Linked DNA regions of Homo sapiens. The protein of the gene in region 6 purifies or fractionates together with the protein of the main gene of each other region. This does not show direct contact. Each region holds a gene or a part of one and is shown on either strand. Other genes may lie near its edges. The genes, in order: NID2, REXO2, NFU1, MSI2, ESRP2, PITRM1 and DERA.

The links.
Region 1: the proteins of PITRM1 (region 6) and NID2 purify together in Homo sapiens (affinity purification with mass spectrometry; one large-scale study listed by BioGRID and IntAct). This does not show direct contact.
Region 2: the proteins of PITRM1 (region 6) and REXO2 fractionate together in Homo sapiens (co-fractionation; one large-scale study listed by BioGRID). This does not show direct contact.
Region 3: the proteins of PITRM1 (region 6) and NFU1 fractionate together in Homo sapiens (co-fractionation; one large-scale study listed by BioGRID). This does not show direct contact.
Region 4: the proteins of PITRM1 (region 6) and MSI2 fractionate together in Homo sapiens (co-fractionation; one large-scale study listed by BioGRID). This does not show direct contact.
Region 5: the proteins of PITRM1 (region 6) and ESRP2 fractionate together in Homo sapiens (co-fractionation; one large-scale study listed by BioGRID). This does not show direct contact.
Region 7: the proteins of PITRM1 (region 6) and DERA fractionate together in Homo sapiens (co-fractionation; one large-scale study listed by BioGRID). This does not show direct contact.

What each region holds. Positions count from the first base shown.
Region 1 is NC_000014.9:52,037,827-52,042,002, reverse strand, and holds part of NID2 (nidogen-2 precursor), read left to right. Parts: intron 1-1,151; coding exon 1,152-1,352; intron 1,353-3,025; coding exon 3,026-3,256; intron 3,257-4,176.
Region 2 is NC_000011.10:114,445,554-114,449,729, reverse strand, and holds part of REXO2 (oligoribonuclease, mitochondrial precursor), read right to left. Parts: intron 3,752-4,176; coding exon 3,643-3,751; intron 1,905-3,642; coding exon 1,851-1,904; intron 1-1,850. UniProt on the Homo sapiens protein: 3'-to-5'exoribonuclease that preferentially degrades DNA and RNA oligonucleotides composed of only two nucleotides. Binds and degrades longer oligonucleotides with a lower affinity.
Region 3 is NC_000002.12:69,427,133-69,431,308, reverse strand, and holds part of NFU1 (NFU1 iron-sulfur cluster scaffold homolog, mitochondrial), read left to right. Parts: intron 1-4,176. UniProt on the Homo sapiens protein: Iron-sulfur cluster scaffold protein which can assemble [4Fe-4S] clusters and deliver them to target proteins.
Region 4 is NC_000017.11:57,678,904-57,682,412, reverse strand, and holds part of MSI2 (RNA-binding protein Musashi homolog 2), read right to left. Parts: intron 2,865-3,509; coding exon of another isoform or gene 2,823-2,864; 3' UTR 1-2,822.
Region 5 is NC_000016.10:68,233,037-68,237,884, forward strand, and holds the start of ESRP2 (epithelial splicing regulatory protein 2), read right to left. Parts: upstream 3,092-4,848; 5' UTR 3,010-3,091; coding exon 2,812-3,009; intron 2,727-2,811; coding exon 2,598-2,726; intron 2,587-2,597; exon of another isoform or gene 2,145-2,586; intron 1,072-2,144; coding exon 958-1,071; intron 847-957; coding exon 732-846; intron 464-731; exon of another isoform or gene 390-463; coding exon 291-389; intron 1-290. UniProt on the Homo sapiens protein: mRNA splicing factor that regulates the formation of epithelial cell-specific isoforms. Specifically regulates the expression of FGFR2-IIIb, an epithelial cell-specific isoform of FGFR2.
Region 6 is NC_000010.11:3,162,612-3,166,787, forward strand, and holds part of PITRM1 (presequence protease, mitochondrial isoform 2 precursor), read right to left. Parts: intron 3,770-4,176; coding exon 3,618-3,769; intron 2,917-3,617; coding exon 2,802-2,916; intron 2,724-2,801; coding exon 2,627-2,723; intron 1,275-2,626; coding exon 1,114-1,274; intron 1-1,113. UniProt on the Homo sapiens protein: Metalloendopeptidase of the mitochondrial matrix that functions in peptide cleavage and degradation rather than in protein processing. Has an ATP-independent activity. Specifically cleaves peptides in the range of 5 to 65 residues.
Region 7 is NC_000012.12:15,980,353-15,984,528, reverse strand, and holds part of DERA (deoxyribose-phosphate aldolase), read right to left. Parts: intron 2,222-4,176; coding exon 2,093-2,221; intron 1-2,092. UniProt on the Homo sapiens protein: Catalyzes a reversible aldol reaction between acetaldehyde and D-glyceraldehyde 3-phosphate to generate 2-deoxy-D-ribose 5-phosphate. Participates in stress granule (SG) assembly.

The DNA.
Region 1 (4,176 bases), on a different chromosome or scaffold from region 6:
TGTTTAATGTACTAGAGCCACATGTGTGTAGTTTTCTGGCCACAGGTTGTTGGGAATGGTTTGACCTCACATCACTGATTTTTGAAAGGCAGTGATTTCGTCTAAATGTTCTCCCAGCTGTTCTGAGAAACAGGATGATTCCATTCAGAACATTTGTGTCCTCTTACCCCAATTTGTTGCAGCATATTTGTCAGGCTTTTTAAATTATGCACAGATCTGTCAAATGCAAAAATGGTACTTGGGGCACCTGGGGATGATTTTACTTCATGGGGAAGGGGTGCTCTTCTCCTCCCAGCTCCACAACCTATAATAGTATAGGCCGGTGCACCCCAGACTTGAACCTGCACACACATCACTTGGAGGTCTTGTCAAAATGTAAATTCTGGTTCAGCAGGCCTGGGGTGGGGTCCGTGATTTTGCTTTTCTACCAAGCTAGGAGGTGAGGTACCAGTGTTGCTGGAAAGGCCACCCGTTGACAACAAGGATTTAGAAGATACTTTTTGGATTCTCACCTTCCAACCTGAAAACTTGTTTGCTAGAGGTTTTATCTTTATTGCATTAAAAATAGTTTTGTGAGAAGTTCTTTCTCCATCTTTAACTGCAGAGCTCGGTAGCTGTTAATAGGTTCTTGCTTTAATCAAAATTTGAATAAAGCCCTTGGGTCAAAAGTAGATAAAAAATGGCACACCTGGATAAATTTGTATTTCAGATAAACAATTTTCTAGTATAAGTATTACCCACATATTTCATGAGACATACTTATCTGAAATTCAAACAAAACCCTGAATGTCTTAGGTGGTAGTTTATTTGTTTTTGTTTTTTTGTTGTTAGGTTTATTTGTTTGTTTGTTTTTTGCTAAGTCTAGCAACCTTAGAGAAAAGTCAAGGACGTTCCCAAGAGTATTTCTCACAGAATACAAGCTTGTTCAAAGAGAAGCTGGGTGAGGTAAGGCAGGATGAAACCATATTCTTCAATGGAAAAGTTTGGGAACTTATGGAATCAACAGCTGATAGTGCTTACTCTCAGATATCAGATAATCTCCTTAGGCACGATCTCCAACAGCAGTAGAAATTGGGAGCGGGCAGTATATACTGGTAACTGTTTAAGCAAGACCTCTTTTCATCCCTGTGCTGAATGTTTTTCATCTCCAGGTGCTGCCTTTACCCATGACATGGAAGTTACATTCTACCCGGGAGAGGAGACGGTTCGTATCACTCAAACTGCTGAGGGACTTGACCCAGAGAACTACCTGAGCATTAAGACCAACATTCAAGGCCAGGTGCCTTACGTCTCAGCAAATTTCACAGCCCACATCTCTCCCTACAAGGAGCTGTACCACTACTCCGACTCCAGTATGTATAACCAGTCTTCACATCTGTAAAATGGGGATTATGCCCATCTCACAAGATAGATACAAGGCTTAAATGACTTACATGGCATGTCCTTAGAACAGTGCATGGAACATAAAATGAGCTCTATTATGTTATTACTCTTATTGTTACCATGAAATATATCGTGTAAGTGAGCAGAATGGCTGCTATACATAAGAATATCTATATCCCTACATAGTATTTTCAAATAATAAAATCAATAGCAACATTGTCCATGGGGTGGGTAGGGATGGTATAATTATATACAGTTTTTAACCATCCTACTTTCTGCAACATGGAAAAATAGTGATTATTGGAATTTATATTTATCTCAACCTTGTTTCAGCTGATGAGTTCAGGCTGCTTTAAAAAAAAAAAAAATCACAGAAAGAGGCCAGGTGCAATGGCTCATGCCTGTAATCCCACCACTTTGGGAGGCCAAGGTGGGTGGATCACCTGAGGTCAGGAGTTCAAGACCAGCCTGGCCAACATGGTGAAAACCTGTTTCTACTAAAAATACAAAAATTAGCAGGGTGTGGTGGCACGCTCCTGCGATCCCAGCTACTTGGGAGGCTGAGGCAGGAGAATCATCTGAACCTGGGAAGTGGAGGTTGCAGTGAGCCGAGATTGTGCCATTGTACTCCAGCCTGGGCGACAAAGCAAGACTCCATCTCAAAAACAAAACCAAAAAACACAGAGATGCTATAATTTATTATAAAACTAATGCTAGATTTGGAGTCAAAAGATAAGAATTTATATCCTGGACTTGCCATTTAATATCTATAGGGAAAGGCCTCTTAATATCTGAGAATGTATTTTCTCATCTTTCACATGGAACTAAAAATGCTTTTTCTATATTATGTGATCAATGTGTGCGAAGCGTGATGTGTTCTGTGAAAGTACTACCTGCGCACAGGATGCTGCCTCCATCACAGCTGCTGTTGTGCAGCACAGCAATCCGGATTGAGTTGTGCCTTTCCTCTGACCCCTGCTGCTCCTATGCTGAGAGCTGGCAGCCTGGCAGGAGATGTAGGGAAGACAAGGGGAAGCAGAGACCTGGGCTGTGAACAAAATGGTCAGTGTCCGGATCACTGACCTGAGCTTGACTCCTAGACTCAGATGGTGAGAGACAACCCTTTCCCTTCTCTGGAATCCTTCAGATTTACTGAAGTGCGAGGTGTTGGAAGTCGTCACTTCTGTGAAATGTAGAAGATGGATTGGTTTAAAATTTAGGGTGTAGAGTCAAACCAATGTGAGTTTCAGTTCCAGCTCTACCATGTGGCAGCATTGCATCTTAGGCTACTTAACCTTTGTGAGCCTCTGATCACATGATTTAGTGCCCACCTCACCAGGCTGTTGTGAGGAATAAATGAGGCAGTATGTAGAGAGCACTGTTGGCATGGCTGGCCCTTAGTAACACTTATTCTTTGTGTATAATAACATGGACAATTGTAGTGCCTTCTCCCTCTCAGCACTGTGGCTTTGCATCCACTCAGGTTTTTGGGATTTCCTTACACATTTTTTCATATAAACTCAGGAGGTTCCCAAGGGAACACACTCCAAGAATTAGATGAAAAAAACTGCAGAAAAATCCACCTCACATGAAAATCTCTGTATTTAATATTTTTAAAAAATTACCACTGTGTTTGTTGCAGCTGTGACCTCTACAAGTTCCAGAGACTACTCTCTGACTTTTGGTGCAATCAACCAAACATGGTCCTACCGCATCCACCAGAACATCACTTACCAGGTGTGCAGGCACGCCCCCAGACACCCGTCCTTCCCCACCACCCAGCAGCTGAACGTGGACCGGGTCTTTGCCTTGTATAATGACGAAGAAAGAGTGCTTAGATTTGCTGTGACCAATCAAATTGGCCCGGTCAAAGGTAAGGTTTCCTTTTTTGTTGTTGGGTAAAAATGACATCCTTTTAAGTAGAGTTAGAATGATTCACAGAGGTTACTAAGGGTTACCTAGTGCCATGCTGTGTTATGTGCTAGGTATAAGGATGAATAGAGCAGATCCTTGCCCTTGAGTTGGAAACAGAGGCAGAAAAGAGTTTTAGGGCAGGGAACAGTGTCCCTGCCAAAGTCAGGAAATAGAGCATAGTATGTGAAGCTGGTTTATAGCAATACCCAACTGTGCGTGCCAATCAGGAATATACCTGTGAACAAGGCAGACTGGAATTAGGAGGGAGAGTGATGCTGACAAGTATTTGTTACAAGTGTGATGAGAGCAGGGCACTGTGAGTCTAGTTTGAAGATTCAGAAAAGATGTCCCCAAGAAAGTGACATTTTAGCTAAAACAGATGAGAAGAATTTCATCCAAAACTAAGGTGGAGCAAAGAGCTAGTATCTGGAAAAACCAAACATCATAGAACTTGATGTATAACCTCCCCCTCCATGATTCCCAGAACATTATACTTAATGGTGAAAGACTGGATGCTTTTCCCTGAAGCTTAGGAACAAGACAAGGATGTCTGCTGTTGCCACTTTTATTCAATTCAGTACTAGAATTTCTAGCCAGGGTGATTAGGCAAGAACACAAAATAAAAGCCATCTAAATTGGAAAAGGACAAAGTAAAATTAGTCTCAGATGACATTTTGTGTAGAAAATCTCAGGAATTCACTAAAACACTATTAGAACTAAAGAACAAGTTCGCAATGTTATAAGATATGCAAGATCAGTACACCAAATTGTATTTCTCTATAGTAGCAATGAGCAAACTAAAGATTAAGAAATTGTTTCAAAAAGAGATAAATTTTTAAAAAGAAGTGCAGTACTTGTACATTGCATCCCACAAAACAT
Region 2 (4,176 bases), on a different chromosome or scaffold from region 6:
CTGTCTAGCATCATCAAAAGTAGAACATTTCAGAAAAGCAATTTTCTTTAAATGCTTTGTTTTTTAAAAACTTTTGACAAAAAAATTTGTAAAATATAGAAGATTAAAGTTTCCCAAATTGTTCCAAAAGATGGCGACATGTTCCACAGGGAGAAAAAATAATTCCACGGTCAAATAAGTTTAGAAAAACTAGAGTAAACTTTTTACTGAAATAAAAAGTTGCAAAGCATTTAATATACTAATGTGTATTATGAATTCCCAAAAGGAAGCTGTCCTATATTTCTAATTTATTAATTTTCTAAAATTAATAAATTTTAGTATTTCTAAAACTTAATCGACCACATTTGTAGAATACTTATAAACAGTTCATGGAACACAGTTTGAGAAACATTGCCCAATACTTGATGATGTCCCTCAACAAAACAGACTGACACACTTGAACATAAGTCATGACTCAGTCATCATAATAAACATCAATTATCAAACAGTACCTAACCATACCAGAGGATCTACCTCCTCTCTCATGGTGATTTGTGCTATAATCAGTGGCAGCCTGCCTCCATCTAAGAGCCTTTCTTTTCTTCCAATATGTTGTTTCTCATCTGTTGTATTCTGAGAAATCAGGTAACCAAGATTATTAGAACAGTGTGCAAGTAAATCAATAAACTCTGAATCATGGGCCAAGGGCCACTTCTAGAGAATTCCCTGCACAAATTTTAGTGCAAGAGTTTTATGACAATTATTTGTGTGGCTAAGGCAACCATCTGCTTTCTTTCCAGGACTTGGATATATGTCAGAGCCGAAGCTGCCAAAATTATAGCCTCTGGCTAAATAAAGGCACACAATATCTTATCCACAAAACTGAAATCCAAAACACACCTGAAAACCCACAGTACTTACAGAACCTATTATGTAGCAAAACCTGAGCAATCTTAATGTGAGGCTATTGACAGTCATCATTACTTATGCCATTTGGTGTGAATATACACGTTTCACTGCAGAATACCTATGTGTTTTATTATGGGCTGCTTCTCAAACCTTGTTAGGGATGCTACAAGATAATAAACAATACAGATGTAGTAACACCTTTCTAAAATCTGAAAAATTCTGAAATCAAAACATACCCCAGTTGTGTCAGATAAGGTAGTCTAGGCCTGTATGCCTGTGCTACAGTCTACATACACTCAATAAAATAATGTAAGAATGCCAGACTCTTTAGGGATTGGTCTTTCTCTATTTGCCTATAACTGTGCAAGGTACATCATAGGGGTTCAGTAAATGGTTTAATAAATGCTACCCTTAGAAGCCAGCTGCTAAACCTCCCATCAGGTTTCATGTTTCTCCTGAAAGACTACAAAATCAAAAAGAAAAGAACCAGTACAGGACACATGAATATACAAGATCTTTAAATTCCTTGTCTACTTGTACCTAAGGCTACAGACATAAGAGAAACAATCAGAAAAACTATAACAAGTGTCAAAGTAGGCAACTGTATTATAGAATTGCACACAAAAAGTGTTCTAATTTCAAAAGGCTGCAAGTCCATATCTTCTGTGGGAAGAAAGTTAACACGGTTCATTACTAGAAAGATTACAGATTGTTTCATCATTCCTATAAACCAAGCTATCTAAGAGTTTTGAAACAGCAATAAAGGCTATATAACCCTCTCAGAATGGAACACTGGAATCCTGACCAGAATTCCTAACAGTAAAAGAATGTTATGTTTATGCTAGTTGAACTTTATCTTTTCCCCGAGAAAAAAGAGTTAAGGGACATTATTTCAAGCAGTCAGGAATTTGGGAGTTAAGTGTGTGTCAGACTGGAAAACGCTTGGTAGAACTCAAACTTACCTATGAGAAGCAGCCTTCTTTGGTGCAAATTCATATTCTTCTGGATACCAGCGTCTATACACAGCAGAAATGGAACTCTCAAAGGAAGCTGTCTCAAATATACTGAACAATTACCTCCTTCAAGTAATCCATTAACATTGAAAATGGCATTTGAGTCATGATTCTCAAGTTGCTTCTTTGCCGGGGCCTCTATCTTCTACCCTCTCCTCTCTTTCTTCTATATATTTTCTATGAGCAAGCTCATCAGTGTGTAAGATTGCTAAATCTGGAAATCCAGCCCAGCCCTCCCTAGAGTTTCTGTCATGGATATGCAACTGCCCACTAGATATCTCCATCTAAAAATCTACCAGACACTTCTAATTCAACATACATCAAAACACACCCACCATTGTCAACACCTCCCCTGCCCCATCCACCATATCTACTCTTCTTCTTCTCCTTTTTATTTGAACACTGCCATCATCCACCAAAGCTGCTCAAACTACAAACATCAGAATAACATTATACCTCTTCCTTTTCACACCACCTCATTCGAACACTGAGTGTCTGTCAACTGACCCTCTCACATTTTTATCATACAAGCCCCTCATTTCCATGCCCTGCCCTTTCTCCAGTTCATTCTTCTCCCCAAGATGGCAGAAAAGCCTCCTTTCAGGCCGGGCGCGGTGGCTCACGCCTGTAATCCCAGCACTTTGGGAGGCCGAGGCAGGCGGATCACGAGGTCAGGAGATCGAGACCACGGTGAAACCCCGTCTCTACTAAAAATACAAAAAATTAGCCGGGCGCAGTGGCGGGCGCCTGTAGTCCCAGCTACTCGGGAGGCTGAGGCAGGAGAATGGCGTGAATCCGGAAGGCGGAGCTTGCAGTGAGCGGAGATCGCGCCACAGCACTCCCGCCTGGGCGACAGAACGAGACTCCGTCTCAAAAAAAAAAAAAAAAAAAAAAAGCCTCCTTTCTATCTTTCTACCACTTTTCTTGCCACCTTCGAATCAGAACGATCGTTATCACTCACTCTTCTACCTACACTTTCTCAAAGGAACCCCATTCCTTGCAAGATCATAGTGAACTTCACTGGCATGGTGTGCAAGCTCTTGAGGCCCTAGAACCACCTCCCACCTTCTCCAACCTCATGCTTTGCACTCCAGCATTAATGAATGCTTTGGGATTCATTTAACACATTTTGCCTTAGCTTCCTGCTCCCTCACATTCTTATACTTCTGTCTGCTCTCTCTGAATGCTCTCTCCTCAATAAAATGCCTGCAAGACTTCCACTCTTCTTCACATCTCAATTTCAAAGCTATTTCCTTGCTATGTAAAGGTTTCTCTGACTCCCCATTCCTCTTGCTCCAGCACAGTTAGATGCTGCTTCCCTTGTGACCTCACTAGTCCATACGCACATTTTCACTATAGGAGTCATCATAGAGTATATTTTCAGGGTGCGTTTTTTTACACATATGTCGATCCACTATTTTCTAAAGTACTTAAGAGCTTTTCATCTATATGTTCCCAGTCACAAGACTTCCACATAATATTAGTTAATCCAGAAAATGTATTGAGCACTTATTTTGTGCCAGGCATTGGCTTATTTACTGGGAACATGTCTGACGTTGTTGCTCCCAATTCTCACCAGTCCAGGGTAAGTTAAGGTCCTATACAAGCAAGAATGGGATGAGGAAGATATGAACCCACTTGGTAGCCTTAGTTCTACAGCTCTATCCAATTACTTTCCACAAATTCTCAATTAAAACATGCTAAATGAGGTAATTTAATGGATCCTAAATATAGCCCTTACCTGCACAGTTCTTTAACAGTGCTCACATCAATTATTCTATAATGAAGATGTTTCATGAACTGGGGCATGTATTTGTCAAGAAACTTCTTATCTTCATGAACTGAATTTCCTAGAAAGACACGAAGCATACTGCATCTCTATATTTCTAGTATTATACAACAGGATATCAAAATTCATAAGTTGTATTTGAAATGGAGATGATTTTTTAAAATTCAAACAATTCCTAAAAGCACCTCTATATTTCTAAATCAGGTTTGGGTAAATGTGATTAGCTTACAAGTACAGATTTCCAAGTACTTAGTCAGTTTAGCTCCTTATAAATTTGTAAATGACCTCTCATGAACAGAAGGACAAATCTATCATTCCACATGCTTGATGTAATGCACAAATCTATTTGTTACTTTCTAAGGTCATACCTGATATGCAAACTTTCTCCCAGTGTCACAAAATTCACACCACTAACACTAAAAATTTAACTGAATCACATAGGTAGATAAACCTTTATTTACAATCCAAATTTTTAAACAAATCATA
Region 3 (4,176 bases), on a different chromosome or scaffold from region 6:
ATGGGGATTGTGTTTCAAAGAATTCTATGTATTTAAAGCTACTGCTGTCCTTTTTTTGGATAAGAATACCCTTAAAATTAGTAAATTTCTGGCTTTCATCCAGACCTTAGAACACAGGATTTTGAATGTAGTAAAAAACTACATTCAAAAAAAAGAAAGAAAAGCTTTTTTGTCAAAATTAATTACTATGGTTTTGTTAATAATCTTGATTGTTAACGAGATATATACTTTAATTTTCTTTAATTTGGGAAATAGATATGATTTAAAATAATTTGAAGTGTGATGACTGTAATGTAGAGTTAGGGAAGTTTAAGGGGAGAGGGTATGTGTGTCTGCATGTGTGTATGTATGTAAATGTATACCTATATGTGTTATGGAGCTGTAAGCATATAAATTCAGCCTCTCCTTTCCATTGCTAGCTTGAACACATTCCTGTGGCCATACTCTGGCTGATTCTGGCTAAGGGCGTGAGTTAAATCAGGGTAGACCTTACCCCTTCTGTAGCCAGGGGCCAGAAGAGGAACACTTTCCTGCAGGCTTGCCTGACTGCTTGGATCACAGAATAGCTTAGATATAAATATTGTAAATACTGAGTAACTCAGCTGATTAAACCACTTTAATTGGACTTTTAAACTTTGTAGGACTGAAATATGTGGTCATATAGGCTTTTCAAATAGGAAACCCATTAATTTTAGTCATTGATATTGACTTTAAGCACCACTAATCTGTATTTTGGGGGAGTTTACATCTACCTCCTTAGGTACCTATTAGTACCAAGCATAATAGGAAAAAATAGGCTGGCATGGTGGCTCATGCCTATAATCCCAACACTTTGAGAGGCTGAGGCGGGCAGATCCCTTGAGCCCAAGAAGTTCAAGACCAGCCTCAGCAACATGGTCAAACCCTGTCTTTACAAAAAAATACAAAAATTATCTGGGCTTGGTGGTGCATGCCTGTAGTCCCAGCTACTCAGGAGGCTGAGGTGGGAGAATCACTTGAGCCTAGGAGGTTGAGGCTGCAGTGAGCTGTAATCATGCCACTGCACTTCAGCCTGGGCAGCAGAGTGAGACACTGTCTCAAAAAAAAAAAAAGGAAGAAATATTTTTTATCATTCTGTCCTGTTTCCTGTTGTAAGTCTCATGACATTTTCATGAGCATCTTTCTGGATGATGGACCTGGGAGTCATTTTTGAAATACAAAATTAAACCCAATTGAGATTATAATTGTAATGATTTTGTTAAGTACCTATTCAAATTAGGTGTTTTTTTTTGTTTGTTTTTGAGGCAGGGTCTCACTATGTTGCCCAGGCTAAAGTGCAGTGATGTGATCTTGGCTCACTGTAACCTCCGCCTCCTGGGCTCCAGCCATCCTCCCACCTCAGTCTCCCAAGTAGCTGGTACTACAGGTGCGTACCAACACACCCAGCTAATTTTCGTATTTTTTGTAGAGACGAGGTTTCACTACATTACCTAGGCTGGTCTTGAACTCCAGAGCTCAAGTAACCTGCCTGGCTCAGCCTCCCAAAGTGCTGGGATTATAGGCGTGAGCCACCGTGCCCAGCCTGAATTAGTTTTTTAGTAATAGCTTTATTTATTGTCAACAGTAAAAAGTTCTGTGATGATGTCATTCATTTTCATACTTTCTACTTTAGATAGTATAGAGTATATGCTCTTAAGTGACTTTTTATTTTGCATTTGTAGTTTTTACCCTCAAGGATTTCTAAAAATTTTGCTTTCTGCAGGTGTAGTTTTTCTCAAATTGATTGAGTAGAATAAAGCCAGATTTTTTTTTTTTGTCTTGGCTCACTGCATTTTCTACTGCCTGGGCTCAAGCAGTCCTCTTGCCTTAGCCTCCTATGTAGCTGGAATTATAGGCACATGCCACCACAGCTGACCAATTTTTGTATTTTTTTGTAGAGACAGGATCTCTGTTGCCCAGGCTGGTCTCGAACTTCTGCCCTCAAGTGATCCTCCTGCCTTGGCCTCCCAAAGTGCTGGGATTATAGGTGTGAGCTGATGCACCCAGTTGAAGCCAGATTTAATTTTTCAAATATTGGTAGAGTACTGTGTGCAGATTTTGGTTAGCAATAAATTATTAATACAAGCTGCAAGAAATGATTGGTTCAGAGCCAGAGTTAGAAGATTATTTACAGAAAGTGTTGGCAGCCCTTTCTTTAATGTGTCATTGAAAAATCATTCCCTTATAACACAGATTTTCAGAAGAATGTCTTACTAGAAATATACATATTTTAAATGAAGTACTTGGACATTGCGGCTATTTTTTCATTTTTTAGGAATTGTCTGGTTGTCTAATTAGAAAAAGGATTTAAACAAAATGTATGGGAGTTCACTTTCAATTTTTTTCTTTATCCATGAAATGGTTTAACTTCAGCTAGCTGGAACTGCATGGCAAAGTACAAAAATGGCTCTCAGTTGTCAAATTAGAACTTTTTCTGTAATGACTAAGAAAAGCATTTTTGTACCAACCATATGTTTTGCCAAATTTAAACTCTTTCAAATTTAAAATAAAACTGTTGCTTTTTGATATTCTATTCTCTCTCCTAAAATAGGTGATGTGAAAATTAGGACAGGAAGATTGATCTTAAATGTATTTTCCTATTATGCCTGGCAATGTTAGATAAGGATTAGCAATATGTACGGTGGCTAAGAAAGTCAGCACCTAGAAAATTGTCCAGCTTTGAATCCTGGCTCTGTCACTTAGTAGCTGAGTGACCTTTAGTCTCCTTATTATAAAATAAGATAAAAATAGTAAGTATTGAAAGTACTCATTGAAAGTATGTAAGGATTAAATGATATAATACATGTAAAGTGCTTAGCACCCTGCCCAGTGCATGATAGGCACTGAATAATTTTTTTTTTTTTGAGACAGAGTCTCACTATGTCTCGCAGGCTGGAGTGCGTGGTGGCTGGATCTTGGCTCACTGCAACCTCCCTCTCCTGGGTTCAAGCAATTCTCCTGCATCAGCCTTCTAGGTAGCTGGGATTACAGGCGCACATCACCACACCTGGCTAATTTTTGTATTTTTAGTAGACACAGGGTTTTACCATGTTGACCAGGCTGTTCTCGAACTCCTGACCTCAGGTGATCCGCCTGCCTTGGCCTCCCAAAGTGCTGGGGATTATAGGCATAACCCACTGCGCCCGGCCAGGCACTGAATAAATTTTAATTGTTATATAGTATTGTCAGTCTATTTAAATATACTGCTGTAAGATGGAGGATTTCTTTTTACTCAGAAGGTTCATTTTCTTTTTTCTTTTTTCTTTTTGAGACAGAGTCTTGCTCTGTTGCCCAGGCTGGACTGTAATGGCGCAATCTTGGTTCACTGCAGCCTCCACCTCCCAGGTTCAAGTGATTGTCCTGCCTCAGCCTCCTAAGTAGCTGGGATTACAGGAGCGCACTACCACGCCTGGCTAATTTTTGTATTTTTACAAATACCTCTACAAAATAACCCTACCTCTACAAAACCCCTGTAGAGACGGGGTTTCACCATGTTGGCCAGGCTGGTCCTGAACTCCTGACCTCAGGTGATCTGCCCACCTCGGCCTTCCAAAGTGCTGGGATTACAGGTGTGAGCCACCACACCTGGCCTTTTTTTTTTTTTTTTTTTTGAGACTGAGTGTCACTCTGTCACCCAGGCTGGAGTGCAGTGGCACATTCTTGGCTCACTGCAAGCTCCGCCTCCCATGTTCAAGTGATTCTCCTGCCTCAGCCTCCCAAGTAGCTGGGACTACGGACGCACACTACCACGCCTGGCTGACGTTTGTGTTTATAGTAGAGATGGGTTTTCACCATGTTGGCTAGGCTGGTTTCAAACTCCTGACCTTGTGATCCACCTGCCTTTACCTCCCAAAGTGCTGAGATTACAGGCGTGAGCCACCATGCCTGGCCTTCTATTTTTTTTTGAGATGGAGTTTTGCTCTTTTTGCCCAGGCTGGAGTGCAATGGTGCGATCCCAGTTAACTGCAACCTCTGCCTCCCAGGTTCAAGTGATTCTCCTGCCTCAGCCTCCTGAGTAGCTGGGATTACAGGCGCCTGCCACCACGCCCGGTTAATTTTGTATTTTTAGTAGAGACGGGGTTTCACCATGTTGGCCAGGCTGGTCAGGAACTCCTGACCTCAGGTGATCCACCCGCTTTGGCCTCCCAAAGTGCTAGG
Region 4 (3,509 bases), on a different chromosome or scaffold from region 6:
TTTTAAAAAATAAATTAAAAAAATCCAGTTTTGCATATCTAGCATTAGCATTTAAGGTAGTATGGCACCCCTTCACAGTGGGTGGGGGGGGGGGGATCTACAAAACGCCGTAGAGTCCGCCGGCATTTTAACATGGTGAGACCTTGGGTTAGTTGAAACCACATCAGATCAGCTAAAATAAAATTAAACTTGAAATTGAAAAAAATAATTAAAGGAAAAAACTGCCCCAAAATTATTAGCATTTTTTTTCATAAATAAGAGAAAGTTCTATCCTTACTGGTCCTAAATCTGAATAACTATGTCTAATTTTTTTTAAACCTTAATTATGTTATACCTATCAATATGTACTAGAAGAAAGAGGAGAAAAAAAGTCGCTACACTAGTACCAGGACAGCACGCTTACAAGATAGCCATTTTATACATTATTAACATACAATGATCAACAAAGAGTCTTCTATGAGGTGATGGGGGATGCAGAGAAAAGGAAGGGAAGTACAGTACATCACCAACATGGACAAAATAGGAATTAAATTCCCTCGTCTAAACACTGAATTTCTGGGAATTTACTATTTTTTCTTTCTTTTTTTTTTTTTAAATAAAACTTATGTTTTGTTGTTTTATGACTTGAACAAGTTTTGATATTTTAAAAGCGCTCAGCATTTAATCTGGTTGTTTGGGGGAAAAGAAAAGAAACAAAGAAAGGAAAAAAACAACAAAAAAACCTCACCAAACAACCTAACATTTTATTAGAAAAACAAAGAACATGATTTTTTTTTTAATTAAAAAAAATGTTGTTGCTGTTTCATTAGAATTGAAAACGGGTTTTTTCTTTCTTTCTGAGTTAGCATTTTGGAGTCTTTAGTTTGAAGATGCTTTTGCCCTACCATGTCTGTGAATGTCTACATTAGTCTACTTTGTTAGTAAAATTTATAAAAATAGGAGTGCAGCAGCTCTTTATAATAAATGTCGCATTCAGTGTCTCATACTGGCTGTGCCTTAAGTACCAAATTTATAAACGTAACAATTTAAAAAATATTAATAAAACGTCAATATCACATTTTAAAAAAGAAAAAATATATATCCACACTACAATATGTTTTAATGCCATCTATTGAGTTGTACTTCTATAGTTGCTGTTGCCGACCTATTACCAATATTTAAAAAAAAGTTAAATTAAAAAATATCCTTCATCATAAGTATCTTTCCCCAACCGAGGACCATATATTATAACAGCCAAATGTTAAACATGTGCAAAGAGGAAACTGTCAGTTTTTCCCACCAGTCACAGTGCAGTGATGTTTATACTTTTTATTTTTAAAATTCTGTTTACATCTACAATAAATTAAAAAAAAATTCTTCCATAGCCTCTCTGGTGATACTTGCAGCACTGAGGTATTAAAAAAAATATATATAAACCAAAAGGTTGCTTTCCTAATTTGTAAATAGAAAGTGAATGGAGAAAGGTTGTATTAATGCAGGCTTATCCACTCCTGGCCCATGGGCCCCCAGATGTGGGAGCAGGGTGGGGGGCAGGGGGAGAAGAGAGGCAAAGTGTCCTAGGGACCTTTGGAGGTGCTGAAATGATTGGACAATAGAAAATGATCAAATATTTAAAAATTAAGACTGAAAAAGAATGTCCCCCCCACCCCACCCCCACCCAAGCCAAACAGGTGTGCTTTGAAACTTTAAATATGTTAAATATTAAAATTGTAGCTTTGTTTTTAAAAAACATCTTGGGAAAAGCAGTTTTTCATATTTTAAATAAAAATCTAACTAGACGGTAACATTTGAAGCTGTGCACAGACAAGAGGTTAATAGGCTGGTACAACACTAATACAGTTCTTAGGTCTATCACACAGACAAAGGAGCTAAACAGTGCTCTAACTTGTCCTGGGGTGGTCCTGGCAGCTGGGCGATCTTCATCTCAGTAACTGACTTGGCCAACGTTCCCTTCCCGCCTCCTTCCACAGAGCATCAAACTGCCTGGGACCGACTCCCTCACAAAAATATTTTTGATTCTCTCTTTCTTAATAGTTTCTATGTAGTTAATGGAATTGTATTTACAACATTTCTTTTTTAGAATTCACAATTTCAAAAAACCTTATAATATCACCTCTTTCAACAGAAAAAAAGCACTTATAGAAAAGGAGGACACTCAAAACACTGTCGTCCTTACCTTATTGCCGAAAATAGATAGACTCAGATTAACAAAGAGACATCACAAAAAGAACTGCTAGAAAGTCTGTTAATTAGCTTACTACATCTCACTTCTTCTACAACGCAAAATAGAAAGCTCACGCCCACCTCCCGCCCTGCACTTCACAACTTTGCTTCAGTGTGTGCTAAAGTTCCACCTGAAAATTCATACAGTCTCAGAATTGGTACCAAAATATGGAGAGTCATATTACCATCTCAGCATCCTTTAAAAGTGAGAACAGAACCAAAACAAGCAAAAAAAAATGTTTTAAGAAAAAATAACTCCTTAATATAACAATTATACTATGGTTAGCTTTGAACTAGATATTAAAGCTATGTGACTACTGGACTAAGTCAAAATCACTACCAAATGTGATTCAAAGAGATTTAAAAGGAGAATGGGAAGAGAGGGAGGGAGAGGGAAACCATCAAGAAAAACAAAACAAAACAAAACCGAAATCATGGGTTATATACACATTTAAAAGCTGTTGTCTTATATTACAGCAGATTCGTGAGATGATGAGATGTAGTCAACCCTCGATCCGAAGTGAGCCATCTCTGGTTGGGATGGGGAGTGAGGCTGGTGGGGGTCCAGGTCTGAGGACATCACCTAAACAAAGGGCCACTCAGAAACTTCGCCCAGTCTTGCCTGGACATCCAGGTATGCTCTGCAGGGCAGGGAAGGCCAGGATGTCCAGAAGAAAACATAAAATGGAGGGGAGAGGGGAGGAGAAAGAAGTGTCAGACAAGTATGCGATTTCCTCCACTGTTTTAACTAGAGTTTCAAAGATGGACTTCACTGGACTATTGAATACGCACGAGAATCACCTGGCTAGAAGCTTACTGAGATCACAGGTTGGGAAATCTGACATCTAAACCATACCTGACACTGGGGAGAGGACAAGGCTTCAATTCTTTTGCTGATTTGATATAGTACCATAGGGTTGTTGAGGTAGTGGTGGGAAATGTGCTTACAGGGATTGCAGCCAGGTGGGCAAACTGCCCATTGACCTGAGATACCTTTTTTCTGTTTAAACTTCTGTTTTCAAAGCTAAATGTTAAAAAAACAAACAAACAAACAAAAAAAACCCCACAAACTTGCCTTTATTAGATACCCATCGATAACTTTTAAATGCAAACTTACACTAAAAGATCATATCATATACCAAAAACTAAAGGTCATGACACTAAAAATATACAACAAATAACCGGCTTTGGTTACAGGAAACAAAAACAGGCCCAGGATTCACAGATGTGTTTACTGAGTCTCCCTGAATTGACTGGGAGTAGGGGGCCTGGGCTCCTCTTTTGTG
Region 5 (4,848 bases), on a different chromosome or scaffold from region 6:
AAAAATACAAAAATTAGGTGGGCATGGTGGCAGGCGCCTATAATCCCAGCTACTCTGGAGGCTTAGACAGGAGAATCGCTTGAACCCGGAAAGTGGAGGTTGCAGTGAGCTGAGATTGTGCCACTGCACTCTAGCCTAGGCTACAGAGGGAGACTGTCTCAAAAAAAAAAAAAAAAAAGAAATGACAAAGAGGATTCCCCCGTGGTCTCTTAGAGAAGGTCACAGTGGGGAGGAGCAATAGGCATTTGTCATCCCTGAGAACAGGTGACAGGCAGTGAGGGAAACCTTACTGCTGGGCTCTTTGAGTAGATGGAGGATAACAGCTACCATTGTCTTGACTTCCCAGACCCCAAAGTCATCCTCTGTGGCATCTGTCTCCAGTCCTAAACCTATGGGCAGAGAAGTGACAGTGAAGACATCTTAGCATAAGCACTAATCCTGTTTACTCCTGGGCCCAACTCCCCTCCATAGACACATGCTGGAGACCAGCATACACATTTGTTTTGGCCCAGTTCATGTGTGCACATACAGATTCCCAGTCCAGACATAGACAGACACATACCCACATTCCAAACTCATCCTAGCACAGACACGAAGACACAGTACACTCAGGGACTTAGCAGATAACGCAGTCTTGTATGTGTCCATATTACCCACCCACAGCATGCACATACTCAGACACATGTACCCACAGTGGCTTCTCCACCCTAACCCTGCTGGGTCACAGATACCCTGTGCCATGGTGGCCACAGTGAGGTCCCTGGCAGGGCAGGTGCTTGGATGCTGCATATGGAATTCTCTTCGGAGGTCATAGAAGGAGAAGAACATGTCGGGGAGCACCAGGTTCTGGGGGCACATAGGATTGAGGATGAGCGCCCTGCCCACCCTCAGGACAAGAGGGGTTCTGGGAACCTTACTGACCACCCCACCCCACCCGGTTTTCCTTCAGGAGCATACCTTCCTGGAGGCCTCGGGGTGCAGGACCTGTCGCAATAGCTGCTGCCCATCAGTGCAGAGCATGTAGGGGCCCCCGCCCAGCAAAGCCACATCCCCGTTCACCAGCTGTGAGAACTGGGGATAGGGAATGGGGAGAGAGAAACACACAGATTCACAGCTGGGCAGGCAGGAAGTGAGGGTAGGAGGAAGGAGGCAGGCTGCAAAGCTGGTTCAGCCAGATGTTCAGCCCTATCCTGCCTGGGAATAAGAGGCCACGCCTGTTGAGCCTAGCCCTATGTCCCTTCCCCTCACCCCCCAACCCTGTTCCAGTCCACTGTCACCTCCTCCAGGCCAAATGAGGGCAATCACATATAACCGAAGCCCTCAACACACACACTCCAGGAGTTTGGAGTGGGGCCAGAGCAAACACCTGGAGTGGGACAAGCAGGTGGGAAGGGGCGGGGCAAAGCAGGTTAAACCTGTCTTTGACCGGGTACCACCCTCAGACAGGTGGGGGAGGCCCAGGCCTGCCTGAGGCCCAGAAGGCTCATGGTCAATGGCAGCCCCGCCTCCAGGTCTGACCAACCGAGGGGCAGAGAAACTCCAAGGACAGAGCTCCACACTTGGACATCAGGGGCAGCATGAGCTTTGACCCACATCCTATTGACCGGCTGGCACTGAGCTGTTTGCTCATAGAGGGGGTGGCACTCCTGAGGCTGCCCAGCCCTCCCCCAGCCTCCATCCTTGCTGGAGAAGTATAAACACTAATCAGTGACCCACGAACCCTCCCTGCCAATTCTGTGACACTTTACAACTTGGGGCTGACAGAGCAAGGCAACCCAGCTCTCCTCCAGCAAACTCCCCAAGTGAAGGGCCGGGAGCCCTTCTGGAACAGACAAGGAATCATCATCGTGGTGCCTCCTCATCAGGAACCACAAGAGTTGTTGGAAGATGAAAGAACGTGAGTGTATAAAAAGGACTTACACTAATTACACTCAAGAGTCAGACATAGAATGAGCGCCGTAGTGAAGATAAGGAAAAGAAAACAGCAATGGAAACCACCTCCCACTTCAGCTAGGGCAGGAGGCACCCCAGGCCTTTGCACTCAGCAGGCAGATAGTCCCCCAGGCCAGGCCGGGACAGCGCCCACGCCTGGCCAGCCGGCCGGGACAGGCCTAGACGAGCAGTTTACACCTGGCGGCGTCTACCTCTAGGGCCGACACCGCCCTACGCCTCCGCTCCAGCAGCTCCCAAGCAGGCCGAAGACGCGGGCCGCAAGGACAGGTGACCTATATGGGCCCCTCGACCCCTTTCGCTTCCGGCTGCGGCTCAGGGAGACCTGACCCAGCAGGTCTCCCAAAGGCGTCTCGGCCTCGCTCCCCGGGCGGGAACTGGGGATGGATCCCAAAGCCTGCGTCCCGATCCCTTCGGTAGGAGTAGGTTCCTGCAATGGTTGAAAAGTAAGGAGCCCAGGGGAATGGCTGGCACGCGCGGATGAAAGGGGCACGCACACGCGAGAGTCGCTCAAAGTTTCAAACAAGAGCCCAGTCCTGCCGCCTGGACCGGTTGGTTGCGGCACGCCAGGCCTAGCCTCCGGCCGCCAATCCCGCCCAGAAATGTCCTCACGTCCAGGCCATGCCGCCACCCACCCCGGCGCTCACCTGCTGCAGCACCTTGTCCAGCGGCTCTGCCCGCGCCAGGCTGTCGGCGCTCAGGCCGCTCGCCTCGCGGCACTGCGTACTCAGTGCGGCCGCCTCGGCACGAACCAGCGATTTGTGCAGCGTCCCCACCTGTGAGCGGCGGGGGAAACCGATCAGCCGCGCCCCTCGACCCCGGAAGCTCCCTGGGGACCTCACCGCCTCTTTTCCACCCTACCTGGCGGCTCCGCGGCTCAACCACTTGCCAAACTAGGAGGATTAAGTCGGTCTCGTCCGAGCCCAGGTCCCGTCCCAGCGCACCCGCCGTAGCCCCGAAGAGGACGACCAGTGATCCGGGCCAGGGGCAGGGGTCCGCGGCGGGGTCGGCCGCGGGGTCAGGGCCCGGGGGAGGGGGCGGCGGCGGCGGCGGAGTCATGGCCGCAGAGGAAGGGGGCTCTCGGCCAGACACGCGGACCGACGAGGCGCACGCACGCACCGACCGACCGCAGACGCGGATCAGCTTGGGCGGGACACCGTGTATCGGGGGCGGCACCTGCGGCCCGGCTGGCTCAGTGGGCGCTGCCAAGACCCGCCCGTGGCGCCCCGCGGGGCGGGGCGGCTACCGGCCCACGCCCTCTCCAGGCGAGTTACCTGCCGGCCCCGCCGGCCACGTGACCGGGGCGGCTCCGGGAACCTTGGGGGAGGGCCGCCAGAACTCAACCCAGGACGCAAGAGCTCACGCTCCCGGCCTGGGCGCACGCTTAGGATCCGGATTCCTACTTCCAGGGCTGGTCCTGCCTGATTTTGGGGGCTAACCCATTCTTCCGCTCTCCCCCCACTCTTCCCCAGGGGTCGTCAGGCCTCTGCAAAGGAGCGTGCAAGACAGAGGCCTTCTCCAGTATGGAAGTCACCAGGAGGCAGTCTAGGGGCTGTGGGGGTCAACACGGCAGGTCTGGGGTTGATGGAAGTCAAAGGGTCAAGGGGGCGGTGAGAGTTGCCGGGTATCACCCTGTAGGGGGATCACCAGAAGTCACCTGGGAAAGGGGAGGGCGGCGGGAACATCAGCGTTGTTAGAGCTGTGGGGTGGTCACCAGGGATCACAGGGAAGGGCTTGTCCACGCAGATGCTAGGGCCGAGCGCTAGCCTGGCACTGAGAAGTGCCAGAGCGCGGTCGTTGTGGGTTGGGAGTGGGCAGGCCTCAATGCTGGGGAAAGGAACCCCCCAAATCGCAGAGAGCTGCACCCTAGACGAGGCTGAGAGGGGTAGAACGGGCCTGGAGCCTCACTCCTACCCCACGTGTGGGGGCCTGCCTGCTTTCGTCCCTTTCTGGACGGTGGAGAAGCTGCCTGGAGATTGCGAGCGCTCTGGCCGATGGGGGGCTAGCGTTGAGCGTGTGTGCGCGCATGCGGGCTGCAGATCCTCCCTTTTCCATCCCGCACCTACAACCCAATTGACAGCCCCGCATTTGGGGCTCCCATTCCTCCCTTTGCCCAGTGGAGCTTGGTGAGGCTCCTTTATGGCGCGTTTCCCGGCCGTTCCTTACTTTCCCAAACTCTCCCAGGGAGGTGACTGAGAAACTGAATAAGTGACTGAGAAACTGAATAATCCAGCAGGAAGGAGGGGGCTCCAGCGTGGCGGGAACTGAGTCACGCGGTTGCCTAGCCCGACTCGAGACTGAGACGGGAGCCGCACCACGCGCTTTCGGACAAGGAGGGTGCTGCGGCCCGGCCCCTGGACAATGGAGAGAGCGGGGCACCCGGGCGCATCACCAGAGCTCATGCCCGGGAAAGGGGCGAGGCCCGGGGGGAGAGAGCTCAGCGTAGCTCCACTTGGCAGCTAAAGAAACAGGCGCCCGGGACGGAAATGACTCGCGCCCGGACACGGCGACAGGGAGAGCATGGGAAGTGCTTCCTTCGCCCGGCGGGTTCGAGCGAGTAGCACTTTACTTTCCCTACAGGTGGAGGCGGGCCTTGGTGCGCGGCTGTCCATCTCCGGACCGCCCACCCGGGCACTGGCCCATGCGTCTCCTCCCCCGGAAGCGGTAAGCGAATCAGGCGCGGGGGAAGGGAGAACGTTGCTCCTCGGGCCCCTCCTCCCGATAAGCCTGGAATGTCAAATATTTGTTCGCGGGGCGGGGCGCAACCGCGAGTAACGCTCCTCCCCCTCCCGCCCGGTAGGGCGCCTGCGCTTGGTGGAGGCGGCCCTTCCTCCGGCCACGCCCTTCCAGCCAACTCCCCTAAACCAGTGGCCCTAACCGCCGCATTCCTAAAGCTCC
Region 6 (4,176 bases):
ATGTGGCCGTCTATGGAGAGCTCCCCATGAGGGACTCTGCTTACAAAGGCACAGCCTGACTCAAACTAAGTCTTTGGATCTAAGTTCCAGTGCTCAGGAAACACAGGAACATGGCACCCAACACCAGGCGGGAACAGCCAGGCCACCTGGAAAGTGAGTGCGCCAGAAAGAAACTGGGCCTGCACACTCCTCTGCCGTCCCCTAGAGGGTGCCCAGGAGAAACCCGGGCCGACCAGGTGTGACCTGTGGGACCCCGTGCAACAAACACTTTGGGGCCAACTAGAAAATCTGAATATGGAATAAGAAATAGGCAGTTTTAAGAAAGTATGTTTTATTCTATTAAAACTGAAAATGGCATTAGCTCATGTAAGAAAAAATCCTCACGTTTTAGGGTCACAAATTCAAACATTTACGGGCAAATGATCATGACGTCTATAATTTACTTCCAAAAACTTCAGCAAGGGAAAGGATATCTATTACATGATAAGTGTTTAGGGGCTCATTATTCTAGTATCTCTACTTTTCTGTATGCTTCAAGTTTTCATAATTATTTTTACATAAAATAATCTTGCAAATATGTTTTTACATTAGCATTCATATGTAAATACAATTAGTGTTTTATATAAGATATATGACTATATTATTATTATAATGACCTTGTATTAGTGACATAAGAACAAGCAATGTATCAGAAAGTGAGGATGTAATTAAGGTTCAGTAACTGCATCCACTATTGGAAGAGCACTTCTCCGTGCCAAGGAGAGGGCTTCAAGCTTCACACCCCGTGTCAAGGTGGGCACCATCCATGCACCCCCACTTTCCACGCAACCAAGCTAGATGTGAGGCAACAGGCTGCGGGGCCAGGACCCTCCTCTGGGGGACTCTAAACGCTGTGTTTGTAACCACCATGCTGAGCCTCCTGAGGGCTATCATTGTAAATGTCCAAAATCAATGTCCAAGTAAGATAGGCAAACTTAGGCCAAGAATCTTACCTAGACTTAGATATTTCTTAAGCATTGCTAAATGTGAGAGAAGCCATGCCATAAACTGTTAAGAACACAAACAAGTCAACTTTTCACAATCCACCATCAAACTTTTCCAACAAAATATTACCTAGCATTGCTTGGGTGATAGTGAGTGGCATGAAACTGCTTAAGCTGCTCCCATGTAAGCTCCGGGATGCACAGTGGGTCACCCCCGGAGACCACTGAGTACGTGTGGTCAGGAAGAAGTCTGTTCTGAAGGTGCTGGGAGAATATCCTCTCATTGTCTGTCTTGAAACGTAAAATAAATAAATCATAAGTATACATGTAAAATAATACACACGTTACATTACTTACAATATAGCCAATTGATCACATTCTGGTGCATACACCTGTAATACTTTGCAAATAAAGCTGTTCTAATGGTTTAAAAAAAAAAAAAAAACACCCACGCAGGCATTGTTTAACACGGTATTCAATCATTCATCACCCACGCACAGGACCCAAGGATTGAGAAGAACAATGGATTTTTTGATGTGTGGTGCAACAAACGCATAGCTGAGGGCTGTAAATCGGGATGGATCAGTCGGTCTGCCCACCAGCCGTGAGGGAAGTGGGGAGAAGCTGTCACCCCAACTTGAGTTCAAGAAGACTCCTTGGAAGAAAAGACCACCAAATTGAGAATGAAAAGGTAAGAAATAGTTCACCAGCCGAGAGGAGCTACGGGAATCAGAGAGCAGGCCACCCATGAGCCTCAGGGACACCAGGACAGACAGGTTGTCCAAGTCACAAAGGGACATGAAGACATGGGCCCAGGACAGCAGCTCTTAATCCAAAATGGTCTCAAGAATCCTTTACACTCTGAAAAATTAACCCATTTATGCCTGAGGTTGCAATTTTTTTGTAAAAAATCAGACCTTGGCGATGACCTTGAGCTGTAGGACATAAATAACTCCCACAAGCTTAGGGTGCCAATAATGGAACACTAGGCATAAATGCGTTTTAATGAGGACCCAAACAGCTTTTGATTATGTGGGCGTTTTTGCCTGTGTAGGTGCCTGTGTGTGTTTATATAATTTTTCTATATTCTAAATTAAAGCTGAGACATTTAAAAAATACTTATTCATTAAGGTAAGCCATCATTACATGTTGATATAAATATTTTTGAAAAATACTTCTCATAACAAAGTAAAAAACTGATTAGAGTGGTGCTGTGTTGCCTTTTTTGCAAATCTCTGTAGCGTCTGGCTCAGAGGTGAAGCTGGACTCCCCCATTTGCTCTGTATGCAGCTCGCTGTGTGTCACACACCTTGCCATGCAGCCTCTAGAAAGTACACCGTGTACTTGGGCAAGAATGAATGAAAAGACACTGTCTTGGTAGTGGTATGAAAATAGCTTTTATCTCACAGACTTGCTGCAGATCACATACCAGGGGTCCCCAGACATGGTCTGAGACCTGCTGGGAAGAACAGCAGCCTGGCCCTGCTACCCCGACTTCTGCTCACAGCACTGACCCCAGCTAATTCAAGAATGTATCACCTATAATGAGAATATTAAATAAAATCTTCCAGATGTGTCTATATCATGATATTGTACATGGGAAAGGTAAGCTGAACACAACATAAAAAAGGAAGAAAACTTACAAACGCTCCCTTCATCTCATTAAAGACGACTCCTTTAAAGACCAAGGGCGTCTGGGGGTCGCTCGGATTCTCATGTTCCAGCCGCCATCCTTCCTGCCTGAGGACAAATCATTATAAGCTGATAGTGACTCAAATACTAAAGTCTGTATCAACTAGTTAATCATTCATGACATACCAGAAATCCAGCTCGCGTAAACATGGGAAAAAGGTGGCATCCAAATACACCGAGAGGAGATTCTGAAAGTCCTTGGGATTTTGTGTGGAAAATGGATACAGAGTATAATCACTAGCTGGGTACAAATGAAAAGTGAAATTGTAAAATATAACAGATTTCTACTAAAATTATTGACTCTCAAGACTCATTCCCCCTTTGTCCTAGGACAGTAAGCTGTAGCTATTCTTGGGATGGGGCAGTGGCCCCATGCTCTGGTCCCTGGCCTCAGCAGCTGTCCCAGCTCATAACCCCAAGTGCCGGCTTTCCCATCCCGTCTCAGGATCTGCACTCGACGGGCACCAGGGCTTTCTTCAGCGAATATCTAAACTCTCTCAAGTTTCTCCAGAGACTTTCATACATCTACAAAGATGACCTCATTCTGTAACAGCATGGATTTAACCCGCTCTTCAATGTCACTCCCCCACAGAATGCACTGTTCATCGTCACCCTATCCACTATCGTCAGTCTTACTAAAAGTCAAACATCAACATTAGTAGTAACTCTGGCATTGTAGCGATATCTCCAAGAGAAAATTGTTTTGAACTTTTCTGGGAAAAGTTCACATATGTTTTCTTAAAACGCTAGTTTTTACAATCTCGCTACCATGTGGCTTTCCTGAAGGATTAAATTTCTAATGTCCTTCAACTAGAGAGAGGTAAAAATTTTTCTAGAACATGAATTGCCCACTCCCCTCATTCCTTCTCAGAAACTAACTGAATTCCAGTGGGTGTGCCTGGCAAACCCAAAAGCAGTTTCTGTTCAGGATGCTGGTCTTACCTGTGAAGGCGTTCATGAACGTGGAGAGGGACCGGTTCAACATTTTGAAGAAAGGGTCTCTGCACGGATATTTCTGAGACCCACAAAGGACGGTATGCTCAAGAATGTGAGGAACACCAGTACTGTCCATGGGAGTAGTACGGAACTGCACGCTAGGGAAGGAGAATGACCAGAACGCAAAAGGTTCAGCTTAGTGCTGCGGACACAGTTCCCAGATGCATCATCACCTCAGGCTACTAGAAATCATCATTCTGACACCACAATCCTCCAGCACAGGGTTTTCCAACTATAATGTAAATCATTGACTCAGACTGTAAAATTGTATTTTGATGAGATTATAAGTCAGTGTAAACTTTTCCTTATTTTTCAAGATGCTCTGTCAATAAAAATACTAGTGAGATGATATTTTAAACCACGTAATGTATAGCCATGTTTTAAATCAAGCTTGTCCAACCCGCAGCCTGCAGCCCGCATGCTCAGGATGGCTTGAAATGCAGCCCAACACAAATTCATACACTTTCTTAAAACATTGAGGGGTCCTTTATTTATTATTTTTAGC
Region 7 (4,176 bases), on a different chromosome or scaffold from region 6:
ATATTGTTTCAATGTACCTGGTAAAGCACACCATGAATACGGTTTTATTACTCATACTAAGTGCTCAACAAACACTGCTTAAATGAAGAAATGAAGTGGATAAACAACATGAACAGAGAAACAAGCAGACAGGAAGAAATAAAGGGACATGTTTATAATCACATTTTTTTCTGTGGACAGGATGGGTGGAGGGTGGGACACAGCTTCCAAAGCGTGATGACCTAATACCACATTTGTATCATGAGTAGTAGGTGCTGTGCGTAGGACAGGGTTGGCTGACCTCCCAGAATGAATACACTTTCATTGTGACCAGGATAACAGCTGGGGTAACAGGTATCACAAGATTGGCTCCGATGTGACCCTGAGGAGTATCTCAGCTCCATGTGCACAACCAACAGCGTGGCTACCACAAAGTATGTCCTATAAGTGGCTGCTGTTATTCGTTTCCAAACTTTTACTTTGTTACCTGGGCTAACAATCACTTGTGCTGGCAAGCAGCATAAAGGGGGGCTACCTGTACACCAAGTAGCCTCCAAGGGGCTTTTCCCAGGTTCCTAAGAGGCACAGTGAGTCTTCTACTGTGAATCTTTGAAATGCCAACATCACTGATGAACAACTGTTCAAAGTGTTCCATCCCTTCTCATCCTTAGGTTTTTCTGAGATTTTGCTCTCAGATAACAACTGCAGATATTTTCTAGATACAGCAGTTGTGCCCAGAGCAACAGCACCATTGCTGACTAGTAGGCTGATTTTCAGTAGAGTTCCAAGGAATGATCTACTAGGCCTGACAGAGCACTCAAGAAGTACACAAGAATATGGCTGGCCCAGATTCAAGACCAGAGAAACCAGGTATCTTCATCCAAATATAGGGCCCCTAGAAGGACACCTAGAAATTCAACACTCAATCACAATGTCATGTGATAAGTTATATGATAGGGCTTTTACTTGAATGCCGTGGGGACACACAGAGGAGATAATGGGCCAAACAGCAGGGGGAGAAGCAGTGTCAGGGGAAATAATTCCTGAAAAAGGTGGTACCTGTGCTGAACCCCAAGATGTGGAGTTATTTGGGCAAAAGGCATTCCGGGCAGGAGGCACAGAACGTACAAAGACTCAAAAGGTTGGATGGCACCATCTGCAGAGAAGTGCAAGTAACTCTACCTGGCTGGAGAACATGGTGTGAAGGGAAAATGACACAGCAGAGGCACAGCCAGGGTCTTAGGAAGGACCTTTTTAAAATAAGAATCAAGGAATGTACACTTTACCATAAAGATGAAGGGAAACCACTGAAGGAATTTTAAGCAAGCAGTACCATAATAAAATTAGCATTAAAAAAAAATTGTGGTGACAGTGTGGAGAACAGATTGGAGGGGAACAAAAGTCAGGAAGACAGGGGAACAGCTGAAGTAATCCCTGTGGAGGAGGATGGTGGCCTAAGACAGCAGCACTTAGAATGGAGGGAAGATGTGTCAGACACAGCAAAGAGGTCTAGAGAGAACTCTCAAGGCTTCTTCACTGATTTATGTGAGGTGAGAAAAAGAAAGAACCAAGCATGACTCCTAGGCTGCAAGCTTGGATGTCTAAATGGATAGACCTGCTGTTCACAGAGATAAAGAATAAGTCAACTTATATTTGAAAGTATAAAAATCAATGATACTGCACTAAATTTTAAAACATTAACACAAACAAAAGCAGAGGCTGTCTCAGATAGTATGGATATATATCTCTGAGATAAATGAAAAGCTTAAATTCAGAGAGGAGTAAGTCAAAGAAATTCCTGTCTAACATATGTTGATGAGTGAATAATCAAAGAATAAAACAGAAGGCAATTCACTAACAAGAGAGCCATCTACTGCCTTATAAGCATAGTGCAGCAATGAAATGCCACACACACACAAAAAAAAATGTGGAAGAAAGCCAGGAGTTTTTGACCACTTCACATTGAACATGTTTTTACAAAATATCCGATTCCTCCCGCAAAAAAATTCCAAGTGGTTAGCACGTTTAATAATAGCTAAATGCTTTCACTTACTTAATTTCTCCTAAAAACATCAATTCAATAGAAAACATTATTTGAACATAAAACACTTACCTGCCATCATTGCTATCATACTGGCTTTATAGACATTAGTAAGAGTTCCAAGTTCTCCTGTCGCTAATATAGTTTTAAGATGAGCCTCCCCACAGGCCTTGCGAAACTGACGAATCTCATCATACAGGGCTGGGGAAGAAAATAATTGAGGCAGTTACAAAGCAGGCAAGTGATAACATAACTTGGCAGCCGTTTAGAGCTGGTGGAACCCATTTCACATTTAGGAAACATAAAACATTTGTCACTTTCTAAAAATCACCCCAATTTAACATTGCCTGGAGCATTCTGTTGCAGTTCACATCCTGTTACAAGGAATGCTTAGTTTGCTACCATGAAACCGTTTCTAAGCCCTGGCCTGAGGTCCAGAGACATAGAGCTTTTTAAATATCATAATGACATGCAAATTATAAATAATTTCTGTCTTGTCCATATGATGGTTGCTTCCAACAAAAAACAAATGTAGCTACCATACATACAGTGGTGTACCCCTTTGCAAAGTAATAAAAAAAAATCTTAGGTTCTTATTAATTCTTCCATTCACAAGTAATAGGTTCTTTGGTTGGATATAAAGCACACCTTTCTTGAGAGTTATGTTCATGACAATAAAGACACAGCAGCTTGCCCCACTGCCTGCCAGAGTATGTTTATATATCTGACTAAAAAGTGTTAGGCCTGGCCAGGTAGTGCTGGACGCATGTGTACAAAGCCATCTCTGCAGGGAGGCTCAGAGATGCTGCCTTAAATCTGTTAACCCCTGAGCCCATGACCCCAGTACCACATCTGGCTTTGGAGGGTTCCACATTGGGCCCAGATTTATTTCATATTTCATATTCAAGGTAACATTTTACATGAAAGGTAGCAGGATTTTAGTAAGCAAATTAGACCAAAATCATGTGTATTAAATCTTTAAAAAATTATTTAAGTCTTTTGTCAATGATACTAGTGAATTTTGGCTTTTTCAGGCCGGCCACTATCATTTCTTGAACTCAGGCTACTGCCATGGTAACAAGACCAAGGCTTTTTCTTTCCTTTGTATTTGAGTATCTTTCATAGGAAGTAGGTTTTTTTGTTTTTTGTTTTTTGGTTTTTGAGATGGAGTCTTGCTCTGTCACCCAGGCTGGAGTGCAGTGGCGTGATCTCAGCTCACTGCAACCTCCGCCTCTGGGGTTCACGCCATTCTCCTGCCTCAGCCTCCCGAGTAGCTGGGACTACAGGCGCCTGCCACCACGCCTGGGTAACTTTTTGTAGTTTTAGTAGAGACGGGGTTTCACCGTGTTAACCAGGATGGTCTCGATCTCCTGATCTGGTAATCCGCCTGCCTCAGCGTCCCAAAGTGCTGGGATTACAGGTGTGAGCCACGGTGCCCGGCCCATAGGAAGTAGTTTTATAAACATACAGAGTAAACCAAGCAGGAGGGAAACATTCATAATAAGGGTTGGGGTAAGCATTTCTTAAAGCTAAAATGAGAGTTCTATAATTCACAGGCTTAGTAAAGTACATTTAGAAAAATGAAAAATTAGTCTCAGTTAAAACCACAAGTTATAACAGCCAAATAAAGCTTGCCTTCTCAATCACAGAAAACATGAACTTGAAGCTCAGAAGTGAAAAATGAAGAGAAATGAAAGCAAATATTCTATTCCAAGATGCTCAGTAAGTTTAGAAAGTTTGTTACCACTGAGAGATGGTACCCACAGAAGGTTCAATAAAGAACAGACTATTTTCACAGATCCTTAATAACGTGCAGTTCTGAGTACTAGGGATGATCTGAGATGCCACACCACCTACCTTACCCTGCCCATCTACCTAACCTGGGAGAAAATCATCCTACTTATGCCTCCAATATGACAACCTGTGTAAGAATGTTAAAAATAGTAATAGACTATGGAGCGAAAAAAAAAATTATATTCTTTTAATTCAGAGAATGAATTGGATGGAATGACATTTCTTAAGTTATTGAATCTAAAAAAAGAAACTTGTTTTCTAAGAACAAGTGACAAGGAAAATCTTCTGATCTAAAAATCCAAGAACGCTAATCCAAGTTAACTTGTGATTTAATTAATGATTTTCTTCCACAAAATAGTGTT